2 separate regions of the Homo sapiens genome follow, and region 2 is linked to region 1. Evidence: fine-mapped expression QTL. Tissue or cell type: testis. Region 1 holds a variant in brackets; the other region holds the start of a gene. All regions are shown on one strand. Distances are between the middles of the regions.

What was found. PIP is the estimated chance that this variant, and not a neighbour inherited with it, causes the effect.
Region 2: HDAC9 starts here. The variant in region 1 is fine-mapped to the expression of HDAC9 in testis (GTEx, PIP 0.94).

Annotation. Positions count from the first base shown.
Region 1 is chr7:18,150,630-18,153,314 of GRCh38, reverse strand. It overlaps a transcript of HDAC9 not described here. Among named protein-coding and RNA genes, the nearest start is that of MIR1302-6, 25 kb to the right of the region's middle. The variant C/T (reference allele first, on the strand shown) is at 1,586.
Region 2 is chr7:18,494,177-18,496,861 of GRCh38, reverse strand. It overlaps HDAC9 (histone deacetylase 9), which reads right to left and starts at 1,113. Exons shown (of 26, transcript NM_178425.4): 1 at 839-1,113; 2 at 538-600. The coding sequence starts at 559. RefSeq lists an enhancer at 1,335-1,384.

The DNA of each region.
Region 1 (2,685 bases):
CAGGCCACTCCCACCCCGTGGAGTGTACTTTCATTTTCAGCAAATCTCTGCTGTTGTCACTTTATTCTTTCCTTGCTTTGTCTGTGCGTTTGGTCCAATTCTTTTCACCGCTAACACATCTGTGACCCTCTTTTCTACTAGGTTTCTCCAGAATCCCTTGCAATTGATTAGGCCACTGGTTATTTGGCCCCTTTCCAAAGAACTTACCTTCACTAATGAGTTGAACCAACCTCATCTCCCATCTTTATCTCCATCTCCTCCTCCCCTTCCAAAGAACCCTACTTTATACCTACAACTAACTTCAATTCCGTCCCTCTCTGGTTCTTTTCTAGCCAATGCTGTTCCTTTGTCTACAGAAACTTCCTTGTGAAAACACACCAATACACCTAATTTAGGATACACCTAAATTTCCAGAATACACCAATTTGTAAAAAATGAATCATATCAGATATTGTTCTTTGAACTTCACCCTATAATTAGTATTGACTTTTCTAACTTACACAAACTTTATATTCAAGTTAAGAACAATCCAAGTTCATGCTATGGAACCTTGTGGGCTATATTTTGCACAGGAGCAAGTTAGCTCTGCTTGAATGTAACATGTACTTATTGAGTGCTTGCTATGAATGTTCAGAGCTGGGGGAGTTGTTCAGATAGCTCCTGTCTCCCAGATTTCATACCAGTGATTTCTCAGAGTACAGTCCAAGAACCCCTCAGAAAATGCAGATGCAGACACTCAGGACTTATCTGAGACCTTCTGAATCAGAATCTTTAGGACAAGGGCCCAGAAACAGCATTTTAAACAAGTTTCCATGGTGATTCTTAACTAAGCTAAAGTATGAGAAGCACAAGAGAAACAACATATGCATATGAACAATTAAGAAACAAAATAACAAACATATATAGAGAGCAGAACAAGGAAAAGAACCCTGACTTTGGAGTCTGGCTGACCTTAATGCAAATTCCAATTGCCGTATTTTCACAGGCAAATTATTTACCATTCTGACCTTCAGTTTCCTCACTGGTAAGTTGCTGGCTCTAATAGTTACTTGCAGGGTCACTAGGGATGAGTGATAATATATTTAAAATACTTAGCATACTGCTCAATATATGTGAGACATTATGACATTCAGGGCCTCTGTGTTACAAACTGCCCCTCAAATTGTGAAACACTGCAGCCCTGATAGCTATTTTCTTTAAAAAAAAAAAAATGGGACAGCACAAGTGCTACAGGAATTAGGAGTAGGGAGTTCTCACTGTGATTAGAGGTAGAAGGGAAGATACATGAAAGAGCTGGTGCACAGCTTTAGGAGACTGAAATTTATTCAAACATGCATGGGTGGTAAAAATGTCCTCCTTTCCCAGAAGTTCTCCAAGTCATAGCTACTACGCTCAGTGAATTGTAAACAATTGCAAGAAACAATTTAAAAATTACCTTGCTGTGTCCTTCAACTATTCTGTGAATTAAATGATCTATTTTTATATTCCTCATATCATAAAACATTTCCACTGTCAAAATTATCCTCAAAATTATCTCAAGTTTTATGCTAGTAACATGATGATAGTTTGTTGTATGTAGCACATT[C/T]CATTCCCAAGGAGATAGTGGAATTTTATACAGACAGCTTCACAAATATGCCATCAGTTATTTATACACAAAATGATAGTACTGACCTCCTGCCAGAAGAGGGAACTCTGGGTTACTATACTATGATTACAGTACAATATAGGCTGCAGCTTTTCTATCATCTCTTCGAAGAACCATGTGAAAGATGTCTAGTGAGGATCAAGGAGGCTGCAAAGACATTCACCTGCTCCAGGAAACTAACTGGCCCATGAGAGGATAAAGCCTCTTAATGATCCCATCAGTAAAACAGGCTACTTGATTAAGCTAACTCACTCAGAACCAATCCTATTAAACCTCATTATTCCTGTGAAGAATCAAAAGTATCTGCAACTCCATCTCAACAAATGGAGTAAAGTTTCAAATGATAAAACCTGAAAAAACAAGGTAACAATTACTAAGTATATAATTACAGTGTCAGAACTCAAAACAAACTCCGCACTCAATCCACAAGACATCTATTCCCCCTGAGTGAGAAAGCCACCTTTGAAACTGAAAATCTATATAAAAACAAGGGGACCAAAACAATTCATTTAATTGAAGGCAATTTCTATTATTTCTATTAATGTCATATAGGGGAAGAGATACAGCCTTTGCTTTTATATTCCAGTTCTGCAAAAAAAAAATGCATATATATATGCATGTATTAAAATAGACTGAGACAGATTAACACATATAAATAGCTCAATCCAACATCTGTAGCAGCCCTTTAGATTGTATTAAAGTCCTAGCTGTTTATCAGGCTGGTAAATCATATCAGCTCCTAGTTATTTAAATTGCCAGTTTCCAGGCAACCATTTCTTTTTGTCAACTGTCACTCACTCTTAAGTTCCTCTGCAATACTTCCTTAAGAAAAAAATAGTGAAAAAATCTTGACACACTTATTTTGGGCATAAAAGATGCACTTAATTTTATCTCTGATCTTCAAGAGTCTGAGAATCGAGTGATATTGGGAAAATAAAACCTGTTTAGTGAGTTGGAGGAGTAGCAGTGTTGGAACAGAGAGTGATGTGGATGAATACCCAGACAGAAAAGTTGTGGGACTTTGCTAAAGTAAGGGTCCC
Region 2 (2,685 bases), 340 kb before region 1:
CATTTGGGGCTGATGAGAAAAAGCCACATAATGGAAAAAAGAAAACTACCTTTATAACTCTGTGGCAAACACATTTTAGAAGGTAGGTCTATAAATAGATGTGCTTCTGTAGGCACAGAGTAAATATAAAATCGTCAGGCTAGCGGGGCTGCAGTTTAAACTGAAGCCCCAATATGAACTTACCTGATTTTTAAAGTCCTATTAGAATAGGCTTACAATCAGTACACAGCTCCTTTTTCTAGTTGCATAGTAAAGGCAAAACACCCCCAACTACATTTTACTTATCTCAGTCTCATCTTTCATCAGAAGCAATAGTTTGCAATTTCATTCAGAAGCTGCTGTCCCTAAGCAGACTGAATATGCACAGAAACAGTAATGGAAGGGATCTAAGTTAAACCCTACAGACGCACCAAGAAAATAGCAACATCAACACGAAAAAGCAGCAATTTCCTTAAGAGAGGTGCTTTTCTTAGCTGCATTTCCCAAGCCAGCCCCCTTTCAAACCTAAAACGTCTCAGTTATGAAAGAGGATCTTACCTGAGCTGATCATACTGTGCATTCTTTGCTGAGCCAAGAGCTGCTCTCGTCCAGCCACCCCATCTGAGGAAAAACAGGAGTCACTCTCGTAAATTGTCTGCAGCATATTCCAGTCACTCTTACTTCAGCTACATGAAACATTCATCACTGCTCAGTGCACCGGCCCCAGGAGCTACCCTCGCTGGTTCTCCCTCCTCCCTGAGGAGAAGCAGCAGAGGATCAACTTCGACAATGATTTCCTTTCTGCTCAAATGGGCATCCACTTTTAAAAAGACCTGGACACTTTTCCCATGTTACCAACCTGTGTGCAAAGCAGAAAGGACAGAGTGGATGCTATAGCTCTCTGGAGTTTAGGTTATCCCGGAAACTACAAGCAGGTGGGAAATAGGAACGTGCTTCGGGGTTATTTCTTTGTCAGAATACGTAGAAAATTATTAAGTCTACCCACGAGAAAAAGAAACCAATTAAACCTGGCTTAGAGTTCTTCAGGCTGCTAGGGTTTTGTTGCAAAAACCCTCAGTCCTGCAAGTGGCTCCAGCCGGTGCCCTTCTCCTATCTGTGTCTGTGCCTCTCTTCCCCCTTTCTCAGTCTCTCTCAGCTCAAGTTGGCTAAAGCGAGTGATAATCCATTTGCATATGAATCAACAACAGCATGGCCCACAGGCACAGAAATAGAACAATGGTCGGCCTGAGCCAAAAATAGGTCAAGCATGGCCGAGTGATTGGAGCCTGCATTAATGCATTTAAAAATACCCCAGCAAACCCAGCTGTCCAGCCTCTATCTTTCCAACCATAATTCTCTATCGCAGGGCCTTAAAACCAATTAACTCTTTCCTCTCTCGAAGCTTGCTTTACACACTGTGTTTCCATACTGGCGATTCGCTTCCAAAGAAAGGAAGGCAAGAAAAAAAATTAAGAATCATAATTCTAAGAGGGCAAATGCACATACATTTCATTTCATTTTATTTTTGTAGTATGTGTTTTTGGAAGAGAGAGGAGAGAAGTACAGAGCTCTGTATTGGTTCTAAAATAATACTGGAAGCTTTTGCTCATAATGTGGTTTCTGCCTCACCCACGCACAGCAATCCTGGTGTTCTATTTTTGTTGCCTGTTTCTCAGGCTACACTGCAGTTGGCTGTAGCACTAGAAGCTTTTCTGCCTTCTAGTTTCAGGACTAACAGGAGATTTAGCAGAGGTACTTTTGGAAAACAAGCACACCCCAGAATAAAATTTTTATGAAGGACAGGCTTGATTTTTTACTTGCTATTTATGCAAGACAATTGTCCATTTCACAAATCCTATTGTATCTTAGTACCACCTATGAATTTTATCGCATCCATCCAGTTAGTACTATATCTATAAACAAAACAAAACACAAAACACAAAACCGTGGCTTATATGTGAAAATTTCCCCTCAGCCTCTCAGGCTAAATTCAATTTACTTGCAAAAGGAAAAGAAAGTAGTCTGATTTCTTATGGATACAGAATTTCTGAGCATATGCACCTGTTGATGGATAAATCATATATATGGTTAGTACCCAACTATGACTGTTCTGCATTCAGCTATACATTGGTTGCCCGAAATATGGACCTCCTAACTTTTCTGTAGAAATAGCATTTATGATAGTCAATAGATTACCAGACACATTGTGGCGTTCAGCTATACAGTACAGTAGATAGTATCAGAGTTTTATAGTCTCTGGTGCTACATTTATATCCTTTCTATATAAGAGATAAATTTTACATTCCAAAGAGGGATCCTAGCATCTTGTCACTTCCAAGAGCAAACCCAAAAGTGATAATCTACTAGTCATGGAAGCTCTTTTCTCTTTTCTAAACTAAATCAGCGAGGAAAATGTAATTCTAAGGCATCAGAAGCAACAGGGGAAAGAGAGGAAAAAGCAGATTATTTCAAAATTCCCAGAACAATCCGATGGAAGAGGGATCTTGGTCAACTCCAGAGTATGAAGTCAGAGGGGGCAAACAAGGGGACACAGAGTTTTGATGAAAGGGAAGAAATAAGCACGTTAAATCATTCATCAAATAGGCCACTGCTGAATTCCTCTTCTTTCACAGATTAATTTCTACTGAATACTCTACTTCTTGAAAAATTGTATTTGGATATGTAAGTTACAATTTTTAAAAAATA